2 separate regions of the Homo sapiens genome follow, and region 1 is linked to region 2. The links come from fine-mapping of genetic effects on gene expression. A gene starts in region 2. The other region holds a variant in brackets. All regions are shown on one strand. Distances are between the middles of the regions.

The links. PIP is the estimated chance that this variant, and not a neighbour inherited with it, causes the effect.
Region 1: its variant is the best candidate, but not a certain one, in a credible set for the expression of LACTB in fibroblasts (GENCORD, PIP 0.51).

Annotation. Positions count from the first base shown.
Region 1 is chr15:63,142,259-63,153,017 of GRCh38, reverse strand. It overlaps RPS27L (ribosomal protein S27 like), which reads left to right. Exons shown (of 4, transcript NM_015920.4): 4 at 1-4,769. Among named protein-coding and RNA genes, the nearest start is that of RPS27L, 9.8 kb to the left of the region's middle. The variant A/T (reference allele first, on the strand shown) is at 5,627.
Region 2 is chr15:63,117,293-63,128,051 of GRCh38, reverse strand. It overlaps LACTB (lactamase beta), which reads right to left and starts at 6,191. Exons shown (of 6, transcript NM_032857.5): 1 at 5,824-6,191; 2 at 5,350-5,416; 3 at 1,003-1,193; 4 at 363-699. The coding sequence starts at 6,180. It overlaps LOC107984798 (a long non-coding RNA gene), which reads left to right and starts at 6,285. Exons shown (of 2, transcript XR_001751584.1): 1 at 6,285-7,312. RefSeq lists silencers at 5,433-5,622, 5,633-5,702, 5,723-6,302.

The DNA.
Region 1 (10,759 bases), 25 kb before region 2:
CACTATACAACTCCTCATTGGACTAGGAAGATAGTCCAGTTTCTACTCTGCTTCTATTTGATTTGTTACCTTGTGGCAGGTATTTAAAACAGGCATTTCCTATCAACAGGTAGGCCTCTAATGTGAGCAACTGATCCTCTTACATACTGCTTAAATCAGAGAACTGTTGCACAAGAACTAAAGAATGATGGCAAGTTTGGGGTGTATATAGTTGTATAAGGAAGGCTGGGCGCAGTGGCTCACACCTGTAATCCCAGCACTTTGGGAGCCTGAGGCAGGTGGATCACCTGAGGTCGGGAGTTCAAGACCAGCCTGACCAACATGGAAAAACCCCGTCTCTACTAAAAATGCAAAATTAGCTGGGCGTGGTGGTGCATGCCTGTAATCTCAGCTAACTCGGGAGGCTGAGGCAGGAGAATTCGCTTGAACCTGGGAGGTGGAGGTTGTGGTGAGCCAAGATCGTGCCATTGCACTCTAGCCTGGGCAACAAGCACGAAACTCCGTCTCAAAAAAAAAAAGAAAAAAAAAATATATATATATACATATATATGTAGATGACCCAGAGATTCTCAGACTTTTAGTTTCTGACATCATTAGAATCTCAGTAATTTTTTTCAGGCCATTCCTTGGCCAAAAGAAATACCTAACAGTTACATTTATTAACTTATGTTCTAACAACTCTAGTAGCCATTTGAAAAAAACTATACACACACAAGAGCAAAAGTGATGTGATGATTTTTTTAAAAATAGAGACAGTGTCTTGGCTCTATTGCCCAGGTTGGAGGGTCATAGCTCATTGTGACCTCAAACTCCTGGGCTCAAGCAAGCCTCCCACCTCTGCCTCCTGAGTAGCGGAGACTTCAGGCACGTGCCACCACGCCCGCCTAATTTTTTTGTAGAGATGGGGCTCTGGCTGTGTTGCCCAGGCTGTAAGGAACTCCTGGCCTCAGGTGATCTGCCTTGGCCTACCAAAGTGCTGGGATTACAGGTGTGAGCCACTGTGCCCAGCCTGATGTGATAATTTTTATCTCATCCTTAAATCATCACAGTTACTAATGGAATGTGTGTGCCTTTTGGGCTCCATACAGTTTCTCAAAATTGAAATCAGATTGGACACCATTGTCCTTATTTCTTCCACATTGATTTTTGCATGGTGCTTTTTGTCATAGCAGTGGCTCCAAACCCAGCTTCACAAGGATAGGATGCCATCAAAGGGAATGTAGTGCCATATCATATTGAAACTGAACTTCCTGGAACTAGTAGTTTATACAAAAGATGCGTCAGTGTCAAGTGTTTTTCCTGAGGTACTCCAAGGCACTTCAGCTTGCACAGTTTAGGATACTTGGCTATAAGGAGAGACAGTGGGATGACAGCTTTTGATGAGAAGGAATCAAACCTATGATGAGGACTAATCTAACAAACCCTGAAAATTCCCTTGGAAGTATTTTTTAAAAAAGGATTATACTTTAAAGACCACATCTAAGGGCTGGGCGCGGTGGCTCACACCTATAATCCCAGCAGTTTGGGAGGCTGAGGCAGGCAGATCACTTGCAGTCAGGAGTTCGAGACCAGCCTGGCCAACACAGTGAAACCCCGTCTCTACTAAACATACAAAAATTAGCTGGGCGTGGTGGTGTACACCTGTAGTCCCAGCTACTTGGGAGGCTGAGGCACAAGAATTGCTTGAAACCAGGAGGCAGAGGTTGCAGTGAGCCAAAATCGCACCACTGCACTTCAGCCTGGGTGACAGCGTGAAGCTGTGTCTCAAAGAAAGAACACATCTAAGGATTTACATGGCATTGGGAAACGAATGGTGTATTAAGTTTTACTTTATTATTAATCTAGATGGTATTACTGGTTTTGAAAAGTGCTGAATAGGACACCAGGACTTTCCCAAACTTCAGGGTCAGCCACATACATTATTATATACTGAATGTTTTAAATATTATTTATATTGACTTCATATTTTAATGTAAATATATTTGTAAAGGAAACCTTCCATAAACTTAATATAAATTTATTTTTAGGGGAAGGCTTCCTAAATGGAAAAACCAGTTACATAAAGATAGCTAAAAATAGGCCGGGCGCAGTGGCTCACGCCTATAATCCCAGCACTTTGGGAGGCCGAGGCGGGTGGATCACGAGGTCAGGAGATCGAGACCACCCTGGCTAACACGGTGTAACCCCGTCTCTACTAAAAATACAAAAAATTAGCCGGGCATGGTGGTGGGCGCCTGTAGTCCCAGCTACTTGGGAGGCTGAGGCAGGAGAATGGCGTGAACCTGGGAGGCGGAGCTTGCAGTGAGCCAAGATCACGCCTCTGCACTCCAGCCTGGGTGACAGAGCAAGACTCCAGCTCAAGAAAAAAATAAATAAGCTAAAAATAAAATGAAATTCTTGGCTTCTGGCCTGATGAGATGACAAATGGTTTTGTGTCTGGTCGTTCCTGTAAGTCATCTGATAAAGCTCTAATTCCTTTCTGTTTTATTTTTCTGGAGATATGATTCAGATACTATAAAATCCAAACTTCTGTGATGTAAAAGTCAGTAGTTTTTACTATATTTACAAGGTTGTGCAACCATTACTACTGTCTAATCCCAGACCATTTTCATCACCTTAGAAAGAAACTTCATACCTATCAGCATTCACTCCCTATTCTTCCCTCCTCTCAGCCATTGGCAGCCACTAAGCTACTTTTGTCTCCATGGATTTGCTTCTTCTCAATATTTCATATAATGCTATTTCGTATAAATGGAATCACATGGTATGTAGCTTCTGTATGTTTCACTTAGCATAATGTTTTCAAGGGCTGTCCATGCTGTTGCATGTATCAATATTTCATTCCTTTTTTTGACAATATTCTGTGTAATAATATACAATGTTTATCCATTCATCAGTTGATAGATACTTAGAGTGTTTTCACTTTTTATTTATTTATTTTTGAGATGGAGTCTTGCTCTGTTCCCTAGGTGGAGTGCAGTGGCGTGATCTCAGCTCACTGCAACCTCCTCCACCTCCCAGGCTTGAGTGACCCTCTGGCCTCAGCCTCCCGAGTAGCTGGAACTACAGGCACGTGCCACCACACCCCGCTAATTTTTTGTATTTTTTGTAGAGATGGGGTTTCGCCATGTTGCCCAGGCTGGTCTTGAACTCCTTGCCTCAGGCCATCCGCCCACCTCAGCCTCCCAAAGTGCTGGCATTACAGGTGTGAGCCACTGCATCCGGCCAAATAAAGTATTCTTAATGACATCTGCAAAATCCATTTTGCTATGTAAGGTAACATATTCGTAGGTTCTGGGGATTAGGGTGTGGGAATCTTTAGAGGGCCATTATTCTGCTACCACAGAATATAAAGTTGTAAAATTCTACCCCATATTTGGAAACTGAGATTCTTAAATTATGTCTTTGTAATTCTCTTTTTTCTTTTTCTTTCTTTTTTTTTTTTTTTTTTGAGACGGAGTCTTGCTCCGTCGCCCAGGCTGAAGTGCAGTGGCGCAATCTCAGTTCACCGCAAGCTCCTCCTCCTGGGTTCACGCCATTCTCCTGCCTCAGCCTCCAGAGTACCTGAGACTACAGGCGTGTGCCACCACGCCGGGCTAATTTTTTTAAAGTATTTTTAGTAGAGATGGGGTTTCACCGTGTTAGCCAGGATGGTCTCGATCTGCTGACCTCGTGATCCGCCTGCCTCGGCCTCTCATGTCTTCGTAATTTTCCATGGAAAAAAACTTAAATCTTTGGAAGGAATAGAGTACATTATTGCATTTTACAAAGAAAAGGATAACTTTTATAGAATAATGACCTTGTATTCTTTTAGGATTTTACAGCTACTTTTTCACAACTATAGGCATAGAAAATGACATCAGGGGCCGGGCGCGGTGGCTCACGCCTGTAATCCCAACACTTTGGGAGGCCCAGGCGGCGGATCACGAGGTCGAGATTGAGACCATCCTGGCCAACATGATGAAACCGCGTCTCTGCTAAAAATACAAAAATTAGCTGGGCGTGGTGTCGGGCGCCTGTAGTCCCAGCTACTCGGGAGGCTGAGGCAGGAGAATTGCTTGAACCTGGGAGGCGGAGCTTGCAGTGAGCCCAGATCGTACCACTGCACTCCAGCCTGGGCGACAGAGCAAGACTGTCTCAGAAAAAAAAAAAAAAAAAAAAAAAAGAAATGACATCAGGTCATGGTGTTTGCTATTGATCGACACTTAAATAGCCTTTGAATTTTGTTTCAAAGGAGATGCCAGAATTGCAAATTTTCTCTGCTGATTTGTGTCCTACTGATTCTGGCTCGCTTTCCCCCTACACTACTAGGGCTACTCTCACTTTCACACCTAGCAAAACTTCACCTTTCAAAGAATTTAGGCAGAATAGTCCTAATTTAGTTAATAAGCTTTCATTTTAAATCTTAGGGAAGCAGTGTTAGTTTCAGTTATTCTATAGGAACAGAAATTGGAGCTGCCACAGCCTTTTGAACCAGAGCCCGGCAGACCCTCAGCTTCAGCCCTGCTCAGTGTTTTGTGTCTATGAAAGTCTTTTTAATTTTCTCATTACACATTTTATATATCATGCTATGTATTTAGAACAGAGGGGTTGTGTAAGATTATGACTCTATGTTCTTTATCTTGTCTTTGTATTAATTTGAAGTTGTGTTTTTTCTTTATTTGTAGCCAACTAATTAAAATACCAACATATTTATTTTTATTCATTTTTATGTGACAAACTTTTAAACTGAAGACTGCATCAATAAAATTGCATGCCATTAAATATGACTTTTATTGGATTGGTAAATTTTTAGAGATGCCTTTTTTTTTTTTTTAGACAGAGTCTTGCTTTGTTGCCCAAGCTAGAGAGTGCAGCGATGCGATCTCGCCTCACTGCAACCTCTGCCTCCTGGGCTCAAGTGATCCTCCCGCCTCATTCTCCCAAGTAGCTGGGACTACAGGCCCATGCCACCATACCTGGTTTATTTTTGTATTTTTTGTAGAGACAGGGTTTCACCATGTTGCCCAGGCTGGTCTCAACTTCTGGGCTCAAGTGGTCCGCCCATCTCAGCCTTCCAGAGCGTTGGGAATACAGGTGTGAGCTACTGCGTTGGCCTAGAGATGCTTTTTATGGGAAGTCACGATAATGGTTAAAACAGGCTTTAGAGTCAGATATGTGTGGGTTTGAAACAAGTGCTAGTTAATGGTTTGTGACCTTGTGAAAAAATAATAATATTTCTACTTAATAGAGTTATGTTGAAGGTATAATGAGATAGCATATACAAAGAGCTTAGCAAAATGCCTTCCCCACAGTAAGTGCTCTGTTAATAGTTTGTGTGGGCCAGGCGCGATGGCTCACGTCTGTAATCTCAGCATTTTGGGAGGTCAAGGCGGGTGGATCAACTGAGGTCAGGAGTTTGAGACCAGCCTGACCAATACGATGAAACCCCGTCTGTACTAAAAATACGAAAATTAGCCGGGCGTGGCATGTGCCGGTAGTTCCAGCTACTCAGGAGGCTGAAGCAGGAGAATCACTTGAACCTGGGAGGTGGAGGTTGCAGTGAGCCGAGAACGCGCCATTGTACTCCAGCTTGGGCAACAAGAGCGAAACTGTGTCTTAAAAAAAAAAAAATAGTTTGTGTGGT[A/T]TTTTTTTTTAAGTGGAAAGCAGTCATGTCTATTCAACATCAAGTACTTTAATGTTCCATTTTTTCCCTAAAGTGATTTACCCACCTTACCACCACACTGGAGCATAGATATGTTAACTTTTGCTACAAAACAAGTCACCCCCAAATCTAATAGCTTAAAATGTTGACTTATTACTATTTCTCATGAGTATATGAGTTGGCTGCTTACTCTGTTGGTCTCATCTAGGTTCACTTACACAGCCACCTTCACCTGGAGGCTCAAATCATAGGTCTGGCAGCTGGTGCTAGCTGTCAGCTGGGGCATCTCTGTTCCCCTCCACATGGTCCCCCATCCTTCAGTAAGCTAGTCTGGCTTCTTTACATGGCAATCTTGGGGTAGTGTTCTTAGAAGGTGGCAGACAAAAGCTTGAAAGCCACTTAAAGCCTATGCAGTGGGACTTGTGCAACATTATTTCCACCACATTCAGTGGGTCAAAAAGCAAATCATAAAGCAAGACCAGATTCAAGAGAGTGGAGAAAGAGCTCCACCTTTGGATGGAAAAAGCAGCAAAATCACATTGCAAAGTTGCATGCACAATGGAATGAGAGGAAATCGTGGCCATCAAAGAATTGGTGGTCGGGCACGGTAGCTCATGCCTGTAATCCCAGCACTTTGAGAGGCTGAGGCAGGAGGATTGCTTGAGTCCAGGAGTTCAAGATCAGCCTGGACAATATTGTGAAACCCCTACTCTACAAAAAATTATCCAGGCATAGTGGAGTGCACCTGCATTTCTAGCTACTCAGGAAGCTGAGGTGGGAAGATCACCTGAGGCTGGAAGGTCAAGGCTGCAGTGAACCATGATTGTACCACTGCATTCCAGCCTGGGTGACAGAGTGAGACCCTATCTCTAAATAAATAAATAAATAAAAATAAAAGAAAATTCCAAATGGGGGCCCAGGCATGGTGGTTCATGCCTGTAATCCCAGCACTTTGGAAGGCCAAGGTGGGCGGATCACTTGAGCCCAGGTTACAGTGAGTTACGATCATGTCACTGCACTCTAGCCTGGGTGCCAGAGCAAGATTCTGTTTCTAAAAAATAAATAAATTCCAAATAACATAAAACACTAACATTAAAGAAACATTAAACATTTAATGTTAAAATAACATTAAAGAAAGGCATGACATTTTTATGTTTATCTAAGGGCACGGATTGAAAACTTGACAAACATGAATACAGGACCTAGAGATCAGAAGTCAGAAAGAAATAAGGAGATGAAATGGATCTGTTTTAGAGAGCTGCTCTCTTTCTACTTCAACCAACTCAGAGATATCCATCTATTTACTTGTATAAAGTGTTAAGGGAAGAAACAGATTTAGGGCTCAGAATTATAGAAAAGCCCTTCCTTTATTAGGGTGTATAAAAACTTTGATTTCTTTTTGAATTTTCCTGAGTTCAGTGGCACACTGGTAATCTCTAGTACACATGATCTGTGGCTGTTAGAACAAAATTCCCCAATACGTTAACACTGCAGCCTCCAAAATGGCTCCCAATGATCCCAACCTTCTGGTATCCACTCCTTTCTACAGTCCTCTCCCACACCAAATCAGGGTTGGTTTCTGTAACCAACAGAATTTGGCATAAGTGATGGCATATGGCTTCCAAGGCTGATTTATAAAAGACATTGAGGTGTTTCCCTGTTTCTTCAATCGCCTGCTCTAAAGGGAAGCCATAGCACAGACAAGCAGACCTATGGAGAGGGCCATGTGGTGAGAAACTGAAAACTCTTGCCCAAAGCCAGCAAGCCACAAAGACCTCTTGCCCATGGCCACGTGGGTGAATCATTTTGGAATCAGATTATCCAGCCCCAGTCAAGCCTTCCCTCAGATGCCTGAAGCCCCTGCTGACATCTTGTCTACAAACTCATGAGACCCTGAGCTAGAAACACCCAGCAAAGCTGCCCCCAAATTTCTGAAACACAAACTGTGAGACAATAAGCTTTGGGGTAATTTGTTATGCAGTAATAGATAACTAATACACATTATACTACAGGAAAAAGCTCAAGACACAGAAGGCCAGATATGGTGTGATTCCATTTATATGAAACATCCGTAACAGGCAAATCCAAAGAGATAGAAAGTAGATTGCTGGTTACCAGGGGCTGGAAGGACAGAGGAATGGGGAGCAAATGCTAATGGGTATGAGGTTTCTTCTTGGGGTGAAAATGAATTGGATAGTGGTAATGGGTACATAATCTCGTGACTATACTAAAAACCACTGAATTGTACACGTTAAAGAATTTTATGGCATATGGACTGTGAATTATATCTAAATTACGTGTGTGTGTGTATGTGTGTATGTATTTGGAACAGAGCAGCGGATGGAAGTTGGAAGGACTTTAAGGAAAGTGTTAATGAAAACCTGAAGAGCCTTGAAGAAATTGTTGAGAAGTATGGCCTTTGAAGAGGCTGCAGGTGTAGTCTTAAGGAAAGTAAGAGAAATCTTATTGGCAATTAGAGGAAGGGATTCTTGTTTAGTACTGACAGAAAATTTAGCAACACTGTCGCCAGGAGTAACTCAGAAAACAGAAAATGTGCCTAATGAATTGGGTGACTAGCTGATGGGATTTCCATATGCAGTGTTTTTTTTTTTTTGTTGTTGTTTTTTGTTTTTTTGTTTTGAGGCTGGGTAATTTATAAAAAGAGGTTTATTTGGCTCACGGTTCTGCAGGCTGGACAGGAAGCATGGTGCTGGCATGTGCTTCTGGTGAGGGCCTCAGGAAGCTTACAACCATGGCGGAAAGAGAAGGGGGAGCCCGGATGTCACAGGGCAAGAGAAGGAGCAGAGAGCCATACACAGTGTTGAATGTGCTTCCTTAATTCTTGTTGCTTATACTAACATGCAAGAGAAAGATAAGCTAATGGAAGAACTATTGGTAAAGAATTAATAATTGATGGTTTAAAAAATTCCCAGACTCTTCAGATTGCAAATGATGCCAAAATTAAGAAATGGCTTCAAGGCAAAGATAATAATTGAGGGCACTTCCAGGAAAACATAGTCTAAAGATGATATTGAGGGCATGACTATACAATCCTTTCTCAAGACTTCAAAATGAATCAACATGGTGCTTCAGAGAACTATTTAAACAATAGAGTTCATTAGATTATTAGCGTAATTAGTTCTTCCCATTATCTTGGCAGAGACAAGCCCCAAGTTAGAGAGGGGATATTCTGAAGGGACTTTGGGGTGGCTTTTGTCTACTGGCATAAACCCCAATAAAATTCACAGGATACTCTTAACATTTTAAAATATTATATTGTCAGTTAATAGGGTTGCTAAAAAAAATTCAAAAATTAGAGAAATAAAATATTATATTGGCAGAACCACTGTTAACTTAGATGGAAAGGAAAGAGAGTATAAAAAGGCCTTTGGGTCTCCAAACTTCTACAAGTGGAAAGCACACTGAGAAAACCACTCAGCTAGAAAGATACGCTACCTTTCATGAAAAAAAGGTATGGGGAAGCGGCCAGGCTTAGTGGCTCACGCCTGTAATCCCAGCACTTTGGGAGGCCGAGGGGGGCGGATCACCTGAGGTCAGGAGTTCGAGACCAGCCTGGCCAACATGGTGAAACGCTGTCTCTACTAAAAATACAAAAATTAGTCGGGAGTGGTGGCACGCACCTGTAATCCCAGCTACTCGAGAGGCTGAGGTGGGAGAATTGCTTGAACCCAGGAGGCTAAGGCTGCAGTGAGCCGAGATTGTGCCACTGTACTCCAGCCTGGGTGACAGAGGGAAACCCTGTCTCAAAAAAAAAAAAAAAAAAGTAAAAAAGAACAATTAAAAAAAGTATAACTCAGGGGCTGGGTGCGGTGGCTCATGCCTATAATCCCAGCACTTTGGGAGGCTGAGGTGGGTGGATCACTTGAGCCCAGTAGTTGAAGACCAGCCTGGGAAATATGGTGAACAGCTGTCTCTTAAAAAAAAGAAAAAGTATAACTCGTAAGGTAGAACTAAGAGCCCAGAGAACATAGCCAAGAACTAAGAATTATTCTGAAGCCTTGAATACTAATCAGAGTTGCCAACCTCTGTCTGACTGAATTTCAGAATTGCCAGTCTCCTGTATGTCTTCCACTTCCCTACTTTTTGAAGAGGACGGTATCTAGCAATTATCCTATATCTGCTGTGCTACGGTATGTTACACATATGGGGAGCAAATAACTACAGTTCACAGGTCTTAAGAGAAACTACTTGAGTTGCTGTACCTAAGGAACTCATCCCAAGGAGCCCTCATTCACACTTGCACCTGACCTGATTTAGATGATAAGATACTGGGCTTTGAGCTGATGCTATATTAAGGTGAAACTTCTGGAGGATTTGAAAGGAGGTAAGAGTATTTTGCATTGGGAAGGACATAAATCATTGGGGACCAGAGGTCAGACTGTGGTACCCAACTTCCAAGTTGACACCCAGTGATTCCTGCCTCCTAATATTCACAATGTATATAATCTCTTCAACATTTATTAGGCCCCATGTAACCCATGGAATTTGGCAAATGTGATGGTATGTGACTTGAGGCTAGTTTATAAAAGAGTGACTTCTGCCTGGCACTCTCTGTCTCATCACTTACTCTGCGGGAAGCCAACTACCATAAGATACTCAAGCAGCCCTACAGAGAGGTCCATGTGGTGACAAACTGAGTCCCCTTGCCACCCACCAGCCAGAGAACTGACTCTTGCCAGCAGTCATGCAAGTAAGCCATGTGGAAGCATTTCCTCCAGCCCTGGAGAATTCTTCAGATGATCATAACACCTTGTCTGCAACCTCATTAGAGACCGCGCCAGACCCACGTGACTATATTGCTCCTGATTTCCCGATTCCTTCTCTGAACGTTTCTTTTAAGCTGTAGTGGATAACTAATATACCATTTCTCATGCTTTTGTTTCTGCTCTCATATTAAAAGGATATTTGGGCTGGGCACAGTGTCTCACGCCTGTAATCCCCAGCACTTTGGCAGGCTGAGGCGGATGGATCACCTGAGATCAAGAGTTCGAGACCAGCCTGGCCAACATGGCGAAATGCTGTCTCTATTAAAAATTCAAAAAGTGGCTGGGCATGGTGGTGGGTGCCTGTAATCCCAGCTACTTGGGAGGCTGA
Region 2 (10,759 bases):
TAAGTTGAGCAATTTAAATTCTAACTAAATACTAAAATATCAGCAATACCTTATCATGTCTACTTTGGTCCAGGTTGTATTTAGAGAACTATTATTCCAACATTTCTCCATAAGTTTGCATGAACATCTTGATACTGAGAATCCTCTAAATGACTGGGTAGTCTCCAATGAGGCAAAATTTAAACAAGCTGCCTGGATGCTAGGCTTTGTTAGAAACTACAGACAAAAACGCAAGCACCAGACTAGTCCGTATCACAATCATCAACCTCAATGAATGCACTCCGGATGGTATCATTTTGGATTTCCTGAAAATTAACATTTCAGTAATGATGATTTTGTTAAGAGAAGGGATTAACACTCACCAGGTTTGAAGAACAAAGGATCATTTTTAAATAATCTTAGGGATTCAATTGAATTTTCAAACTTTTCTCTCAAATATAATTCGCCTTGTTCAAAATCATTCTTTTTCTTGCCAGGTTTTGAATTCCGGCATTTGGCTTCATTCTCCTGCTCTGTTTTAAATTTAGTAAAATCATTCTTTTCATTACTTTTGCCTTCTTTTTCTTGCTCAAATGCAACATTCTCTTTCATCATCTTCAAGGCTTTATAAGCTTTCTCTTCTTTCACCTTTTTTATGTCCTTTTCATAATGACGAATTCCACTTAAATGGGAAATCAGTAATCTTGTTGTGACAGAAACCTAATTGTAAAAACATGAAAATTCAATTACAATATTAACCTGAAAAATAGAAAGTTAGTTGCCTCGGAATAATGTCTCAGTAATATTTTCCACTTAGAACTGCTGCTGGGAAAATGTCATGTACAAATCCTTAGCCTCAAATTTCAGAAAAATACCTACCTGATTATCATCTGGATTAAGAAAAACTAATACATTAACAATAACTAAAAACAAGCCAAAGAATCCTATGAAACATTTTAAATATAAATTCCAGCATAAACCATTTAACATGCCATTAGTAAAATGAACTGTGAGTTTCAGTACCTTTTCACCTTCATATTCTTTTTCTGGGAATTCGGGAACATAATGTTGTACTGGAATATCAAGATCCAGTTTCCCTGCTTCCCACAATTTGGCAAGAGCAACCATGGTGAGACTTTTGCTGATGCTAGCAATTCGCATAACTGTCTCTGGTTTACATGGTACACGGTTCTCAACATCAGCATAACCTAAACCTTTGGGGGAAAAAAGCAAAAAGTCACTATTAACAGGCTTCATGGTCAAACAAGTTTTCAAACCCTGAAATAATACTATCTTTAAACATGCTGTGTTTATCTAAAAGAAAAGATACTCCACTTTTATAAGTTACTTAACACTGGACATGTAAAGGATTAAAATCTTAGTATATCGGTAAGCCTAACAATTTAACCTTATAACTAAAGTGAAATTGTACCCTGTTTGCAATAGCAATTTTCTATGACTTAGATACAAATTTTTCTTAGCTTATCTAAACAACTGAGTTATTCCACATTTTAAATAAAGTATTCTTTAAAGAAAACATCATTATTCTTCTTCAGATTATATTTATTTTTGACTTTTGAGTAAATTTCCACTGAATTCCTTGAAATAGCCACTCAATAAAAGTAAGTGTGGGCCGGGCATGGTGACTCATGCCTATAATCTGAGCACTTTGGGTGGCCAAGGTGAGCAGATCACCTGAGATTGGGAGTTCAAGACTAGCCTGGCCAACATGGTAAAACCCCGTCTCTACTAAAAATACAAAAATTGGCCAGTCATGGTGGCGTGTGCCTGTAATCCCAGCTACTCGGGAGGCTGAGGCAGGAGAATCGCTTGAACCTTGGAGGCAGAGGTTGCGGTGAGCTGAGAAAACGCCACTGCACTCCAGCCAGGGCGACAAAGTGAAACTGTCTCAAAAATGTGTGAAAAGATGTCCTGCAAACCAAATCTAGCTAACCATCAATTTAATTCGACTGCAAACCAGGAGGAAAATTATGTACTAACTTAAAGCTTTTTCTAGAAAAAATTTTAAATTTGGTTTCCATGTTCTCACAGGCTGAAAGTGCGTAAATCTAACTAAGAAAGAGAAAGTGCCTGCAATCCCAGCACTTTGGGAGGCGGAGACGGGTGGATTACTTGAGCTCAGGATTTCGAGACTAGCCTGAGCAACATGGCAGAAACCGCATCTCTACAAAATATACAAAAAAAAAAAAGAAAGAAAGAAAGAAAAAAGCCTGGCGTGGTGGAGTGCACCTGTAGTCTCAGCTAGTCAGGAGGCTGAGGTGGGAGAATCATCTGAGCCCAGGAGTTTGAGATTGCAGTGAGCCAAGATCACACCACTGCACGCCAGCCTGGGAGACACAGTAAGAGACCCTGTCCAAAAAATAAATAAATAAATAAATAAAAAGAGAACAGAGATCTGAAAAGAAAAGGAATACAATGACTATAAATTTGTATAATCTTAAATATCTAAAAAATATTTGCATAAAGTCCATAAAGCTGACATTTATATAATTTTTGATTACAAGACTTATCATAAATTAGGTATAATGATTAGATTATACTTATACTTGAAGGAAGAATCATTTTCCTTTTTTAAAAAATTTTAAGCTGGGCACGGTGGCTCACGCCTGTAATCCCAGCACTTTGGGATGCCGAGGCAGGCGCATCACCTGAGGTCGGGAGTTCGAGACCAGCCTGACCAACATGGAGAATCCCCGTCTCTACTTAAAATACAAAAATTAGCCAGGCGTGGTGGTGCATGCCTGTAATCCCAGCTAATCGGGAGGACGAGGCAGGAGAATCACTTGAACCTGGGAGGTGGAGGTTGTGGTGAGCTGAGATCGCACTATTGCACTCCAGCCTGGGCAACAAGAGTGAAACTCCAAAAAAAAAATAAATAAATAAAATTTTTTTTATAGAGACACAGGTGTCGCTATGGTGCCTAAGCTGGTCTCAAACTTCTGGTCTTCAGCCATCCTTCCTCCCTGGACTCCCTAAGCGCTGGGATTACAGGCGTGCGCCACCTCAACTGGCCCATTTTTCTTCAAATTCAAACCCCTACTGCGCCCATCAACTTACTGCCTTTAAATGGCATATGAAACATTTTTTTTTCTTTTTTTTTGAGACAGAGTCTCGCTGTTGCCCAGGCTGGAGTGCAGTGAACGATCTTGGCTCACTGCAAACCTCCGCCTCCCGAGTTCAAGCGATTCTCGTATCCTGGCCTCCCGAGTAGCTGAGATTACAGGCACGCACTAGCATGGCTGGCTAATTTTTTGTGTTTTTAGTAGAGATGGGGTTTTGCCACGTTGTCCAGGCTGGTCTCGAACTCCTAAGCTCAGGCAACCCACCTGCCTCTGCCTCTCAAAGTGCTAGGATTACAGGCGTGAGCCACTGCACCTGGCCTGAAACATCATTTTCTAAAAGTGGGACTCCTAGAAACCTAGGATGACCAATTAGATCAATTTCTGTGCAACAGAGAAGTTATGAAAAATAATGCCTTGATAAAAGTATCATAAAATGAATAGAAATCCCTCTCCCTAAGTTTTTTGCCTTCTGTTTGAAAAAAATAGATGACACCTCTACCTGGTTAAAAAGCCTAATAAAGTAGACTGAAAAGTCATTAAAGACAAGGAATAGTGTGTGGGCGGCAAGCCACCCAGGCGCTGAGGCAAGAGACCGAGGACACGAGCTGTTCCAGTATAATAAAATATAAAACAAGAATAGTTATACCAGATATAGATCTTAGATATGATTATATATATCATTAATCTTATTAGTTTGTAGCAATTAGTCTTTATTCCAATATTATAATAATCCTTGCTCTATAATCATAGCCAAGGAAAAACCAGGCCATACAGAGATAGGAGCTGAGGGGACACAGTGAGGAGTGACCAGAAGACAAGACTGCGAGCGTTCTGTTACGCCCAGACAGGGCCACCAGAAGGACTCCTTGGTCTAGCGGTAACGCCAGCATCTAGGAAGACGCCCGTTGCCAGCCGGACCGTGGTCTAGCGGTAGCGAAGAGCGTCAAGAAAAAACACCCGCTACTTAGTAGAACCAGAAAGGGAGTCTCCTTTTCTCCGGGGGAGTTTAGAGAAGACTCTGCTCCTCCACCTCTTGTGGAGGGCCTGACATCAGTCAGGCTTGCCCGCAGTTATCCGGAGGCCTAACCGTCTCCCTGTGATGCTGTGCTTCAGTGGTCACGCTCCTAGTCCGCCTTCATGTTCCATCCTGTACACCTGGCTCTGCCTTCTAGATAGCAGTAGTCAATTAGTGAAAGTACTAAAAGTCTCTGATATGCAGAAATAATGGCATAAGCTGTCTTTCCCTCTGTCTCCTCTCCCTCTCTGCCTCGGCTGCCAGGCAGGGAAGGGCCCCCTGTCCAGTGGACACGTGACCCACGTGACCTTACCTATCATTGGAGATGACCCACACTCTTTACCCTGCCCCTTTTGCTTTGTATCCAATAAATAACAGCGCAGCCAGACATTCGGGGCCACTACCGGTCTCCGCGCATTGGTGGTAGCGGTCCCCCGGGCCCAGCTGTCTTTTCTTTTATCTCTTTGTCTTGTGTCTTTATTTCTACACTCTCTCGTCGCCGCACACAGGGAGAGACCCACCGACCCTGTGGGGCTGGTCCCTACAATAGTGTATAACCCCAGTACTTAGCACTTTGCTTTTTACGGAAGAGAGGCCTCAAGAAATTGTTAACTTAATTAAAAAAGAAAACTTCACAAATTCTGAGTTTTATCTACCCATAAGTGTTACCTGCAAGTACTCAGTTAATGGATTGTTCTACACAGTAGTTACCCCTTATCTGTGGTTTCGCTTTCCTCAGTTTCAGTTATCCATGGTCCGAAAGTATTAAATGGAAAATTCCAGAAATAAACAATTCGTAAGCTTTAAATTGCATGCCACTCAGAGTATTGTTGTGATTGTTCTATTTTATTATTGTTGCTAATCTCTTACTATGCCTGATTTATAAACTTTATCATAGATATGTATATATAAGATAAAATATAGTATATACAGGGTTCAATATCATCCACTTTTTCAGGCATCCACTGAGGGTCTTGGAATATATCCCCAGGATAAGGAGGGACTACTGTATAAAACTTTCAGACTAATAAATCCAGTCCTAAGAGAAAAGTGGGAGTGGGTAGCCATCCTCATGACTCCAATTTATTAGTCACATTTTAAACCTTACCGTGATTTAAAAACACCTGACTCTTTATTATGTTAGATGTTTTCTCTACAATATGCATCGTTTTATGTAAATGCAATAGCATTTCATGGGATCCACTCTAACCAGTAAAACAATATTTTATTTACCAACTGGCACAGAACAAAACAACAATTTTCTGAACCCACCTTCTGACCAGACTTCTTTTCCATCTACAGAAACTCCAACCACTATGCCCGGTGCGCCCACCTCATCCTAAGACCGAAGGGGAAAGAACCGACAGTTACGGGCCTGCTGAAAAAGCCCAGCGCTCTCCTCGGGGACCTTCCAAGGCCCCGCCCCCTGAGCCTGGGCCCCGCCCCCTCCACCTGGGCCCCGCCCACCTCGTCCCAGGCCATGGTCACTCACTAACAGCAAGGGATGTGCCTGTCCGCCCCCTAGGGGGAAGGGGCGGTCCCCGAGACAGGCGGTGACCTCCACCCAGATTTGGGGAACCCCCAAGAGCGTCTGACCACGGCTCGGCGGTGGGGAAATGGGAAGTCTTTCTCGGAAGCCGATCGCGGGCACCCCGCCGCCCCGGGTGGGGTCCACTCAGCCCCCGACAGCACCGCCGACAGGGGTGGATCCCCGGCCCCCTACGCCCCCCGCTCCAGTGGCCGCACCTTGATCCTGTGCAGCAGGTCGCGGCTGCTCTCGATGGCTCTGGCGAAGCACCTGGAGCAGGGCGGCGCCGGGGTCTGCGGAGACCACGGGGCGAGGGACTGCTCCTGTGGCGGCTCGGCCAGAGGCGACGCCTCAGGGTCGGGGGCCGCGGGGGACTGCGCCGGGGCCGCGCCCCTCAGCCCACCTGCCAGCTTCACCCCGAGCGCCAGCCCCAGCCCCAGCCCGAGGCCCCCGACCCAGCCGTGGCCGAGAGGCGGCAGCCCGGCGCGCTGATGGACCCCGCGTCGTCCGCAGCTTGAGGCCAAGCCCCCGGGGGCGGCAGCCCGGGCAGTCACTGCTGACATGAGCCGGTACATGGCGTCTCTGCACAGCCGGCCGCCACCAAACTCACGCACACCCTGCCAGCCGCGGCGCGGGGCGGAGGGAAGGGCAGGGGGCGGGACGGGGGTGGGGACCGCGGTCAGACCCTAGCAGTCGACGCCTGACTACCCGAGCGCCGATCGCATCGAGCCCTTCTTCCTCTCCCTTTTCTTGTCTCTTCCTTGTTTTTCCTTTCTGTCTCTCTTTCCTTTTTTTCCTTTGCTTACCCTCAGATCAAGCGTCACCTCCCAGAAGCCTTCCTAGTTCCCGTCCCATGGGAGTTCTCGCCCTTACCATCTTGCCCCTCAGTGTGCACACTTCTTTAACAACAGTTAACACTTTGTATCATTTAACTACTTGTCAGATTCCTTACCAGAGTGGGACTTCTTTGGGGAGCCTAGACTTAGTTTTGGATCCTCAACTTCTGGAACAGCGCAGGGCACACAGTAGACGCTCAGCAGGCATCTCCTTTCCCTTTAGAGATGCCTTTCTCCTTTCCTTTCCCTTTCTCCTTTCCCCCTTTAGAACGCGCTTCTTTTCACTCTCTTGCCATCTCCCTTATGTCTCATTTCAATTCACCCATTTCCCTAAAGATGTTTTAAAATCTATTGCTTCTGGAATTCTAGCTCCACACCGTACCAAAGACATGAAGTTACATCCAGACCTTATATTACCTTTCTTTTGCTATAAAAGATAAAGTGTTTTTTAAAAATTTCGTGCTTGAAAAATTTTAATCCAAAAGTAACTATTATAATTTACAATTACCTATGATTTCTCAGCATCTGTAAATGATCAGACATTCTTGTGAAATAAGAAACCTAATCTCAAATTGCTACAAAATGTAAAATGTGTATAAAATCCTAGTTTAACGTGTAATGAAATTGATATGTTAATTTGAAGTTACTTAAACATTTATCAGTTTTGTAATTTTTATATTTTGGGATACATACATACACACACACACACACACACACACACACACAATCTTTGAAAGCTTGTAGGCTTTATACCTTCAGCACTGGGGCAATATGCCCCATATACAAAATGGCCCTGTCTTTTCTTGCAGGTGGAATAAAGAAGAGAGCTCACAGACTTGAACTGACAAGCCATCAGGACAAACATATTGAGGTAATAAACTTACTGAGTAAACATATACATACCTCAAAATAAATATATTGAGGTAATAATTATTTAATAGGAGGAAAAGGCAATAATGGTATCCATACCTAGCAAGAAAATAGTGGGGCTAAATAAGTAAAGCTTCTGGGGCTACTCACAAAACCCAAGACTCCAAGAGACCAGAATATCCTAGGACCCAGAGCGTTTGACACTGAAACTGCAGTTATAGTGGACAGATGTACTCTATTAAGATAGTACTGGAGGTTCCCACGGTGGGGGTCACCACTACTCCAAGAACATGAGAGAAAAAATATAAAGAGAAAAATGTAAAAGACGCAGTCAGTGGTGGTTATGAGTGCCCACTTTTATTTAAACTGTACATAATTTTTCTTTAAACTGTACATATGTTACTGAAACACCAAGGGTTTAGCCTAGATCCCATTGCTCGCCACACAGAAAGCCAGTCACCAAGACAATGAGTATCGCCGGGGGAAAACAAAGCTTTTTCAGGTGCTGCAGCCAGGGAAACGGGAGTTCAGTCTCAAGTCCATTTCCTCAGCTAACTAAAATTAGGGGTTTATATAGCAAGGAAGAAATGTAACTATGTGTGGGGAAACAGGAAATAGGGAGGGATAAGGAAGAAGAATTGTTCAACAGGAAGCAGGTGGTTGGTTAGGCCGGGGGTCCCAACCCCTGGGCCATGGACTAGTTAGGAACTGGGCCACACAGCAGGAGGTGAGTGGCAGGTGAGGGAGCATTATTGCCTGAGCTCCACCTCCTGTCAGATCAGTCATGACCTTAGATGCTCATAGGAGCTCGAACCCTATTGTGAACTGCGCATGTGAGGGATCTAGGTTGCTTGCTCCTTATGATAATCTAACTAATGCCTGATGATCTGAGGTGGAACAGTTTCATCCTGAAACCATACCCATCAGCCCCAACCCCACACCCCATGGAAAAACTTTCTTCCATGAAACCTGTCCCTGGTGCCAAAAAAGCTGGGAACCGCTGGGTTAGGCAATCATGACAGGTGAAGGATCTGGTGTCTCATTGTCCAAATGTGGTGATCTGGTAAGTTTCAGTTTCTTGATACTATCTGGGAGACCTGATGGTTGGTTTCCTCCAAAAGGAACTCAGATAAGACAAATGTAAGTTTCTCAAGTTTTAAGACTGGGCAGGTCAATTTTCTCTCTTTATTCAAAATAAACCATAAACATATTCTATTGGACAATTGGGCTGGTTTCACATATGTGTTTTTTGCACTCTTCTGTACCTCTCCTTGGATAAAAAATAAAAAAAGAAACAGAGCCCTGTGTTTGCCATGTACAGGGCAAAAGCCAATGTCCTGGTGGACTTCCAGTCTAGAAGCAGGTACAGAGAGGCCATTTGAAGTATGGCTTCTGGGAAGTGTTAACCTAAAAGGAAGAGGCTGAGGCACAAAATATAATTTAAAGACTTTACTTTAGCCAAAGTGAGGACAGCTGCCCTGAAGACTCAGACCCAAGGAAACTTGGAATGAGCTCCCCATTAAGGGGAGCTCCCCTGTCCTCCTTTGCCTTTAAAGGCAAAAAAAGGGGGACAGGGAATGGGCTGATACAAAGTTGTTTGTCAGGGATCCCCATTGGTTTACAGAAATAACAATGATTGGCTATATACATTGTTAAGCAACAGGGTATGGGTTCTAGCGTCTGGTGCCCCATTATTAGGTTAATTTATAACTACTCGTGGCAACAGCAAGCAGTTTCAAGAGATGAATACATAGCTTATTGTGGGGGTAGGACATGAATGCCATCTCTTTTTTTTTTTTTTTTTTTTTAAGATAAGGTCTCACTCTGTTGCCCTGGCTGGAGTGCAGTGGCGTGATCATGGCTCATTGCAGCCCCAACCTCCCAGGCTCAGGTGATCCTCCCACCTTAGCCTCTTGAGTAGCTAGGACCACAGGCATGCACCACCACACCTGGCTAATTTTTGTATTTTTTTTAGAGATGGGCTTTCGCCATGTTGCCCAGGTTGATCTCAAACACCTGGGCTTAAGCGATCCTCCCACCTCGACCTCCCAAAGTGCTGGGATTACAGGTGTGAGCCACAATACTCAGCCACCATCTCATTTTAATGTCTCCCTGGGCCTGATAATTTGAAAGGACTTGCATTCTTCACATAAAAGTTATTTTCTTTTCTCAGAAGGTAACAGAAAATAAATTGTTCTCCAGCAAGCTGAGTGCCCAGGAGGCAACCTGACCAAGCAGCCTGCAGACTTGTTGGCAGGATCTTTACTACAACTCTAGGGCAGGAGCCCAGAGCCCCAGCATTTGAGCTGGCTTTGGGGTGGGAGCCGCAGAGACCAGATAGAAGAAAGGTAAACAGGCCAGGCGCGGTGGCTCACTCCTGTAATCCCAGCACTTTTGGAGGCTGAGGCAGGTGGATCACGAGGTTAAGAGATCAAGACCAGCCTGGCCAACATGGTGAAACCCCGTCTCTACTAAAAATACAAAAATTAGCTGGGCATGGTGGCACATACTTGTAGTCCCAGCTACTCGGGAGGCCGAGGCAGGAGAATCACTGGAACCCGGGAGGCGGAGGTTGCAGTGAGCTGAAATCACGCCACTGCACTGCAGCCTAGATGACAGAGCGAGACTTTGTCTCAAAAAAAAAAATAAATAAAAAAGGTAAATGACTACACATGGAGAAGAATGGGAAGAGAGAAAAAAAGTGAGGAAAAGGGGAAGGAAAGAAACTTTCCACTAAAAATAAATCTGCAAACCAAGTTTCCAAAACATATTTTTAAAAGTTTTCTAAAAAACACTGACAATAAAATCAACCACCAAATTGTGAAATCACCCCAAACAAAATAAAATCAGTAGAAGGATATACAGGAAAAGAGGAAAAAGAGAGGCCTTTCCCTGGCTAAGAAAAAGATGGGTGATAGAAAATAAAACAAATATATATATTTTAAAACAAATATATATTTTTAAATATATATTTTTATATATTGAAATATATAAAACAAGTATATATAAAATATTTTTTATATATTTGTGTATTTATATATTTTATATATTTGTTGAAAATATATATAAAAGATAAATAAATGTATAATATCTACACAACAAAAAAGGAATTACAAAACAAAATAGGAATAAATGAAGCAAAACCATATAAATATGAAAATGCACTTATCAGAAATTGGGGAAATAAAAGATCATGAGAGAACTTTAATATCATCTCTTCTGAAGCTGGAGCTACAGTTTTGATGGACTGCTGTAACTGCGTCCAAAGCTTGTACTGCTCACCACACAACAGCCAATCAGTCAAGAGACAGGCGTTGGAGCAGGGAAGATGACTTTATTCTGTGGAGCCAGCAAACCAAGATGGCAGACTACTGTCCTAAAGAAGCATCTTAAGTAAATGTGAATGTTGGGCTCCTTTTATGTTAGGGGAGGGGGAAAACGGGAAGAG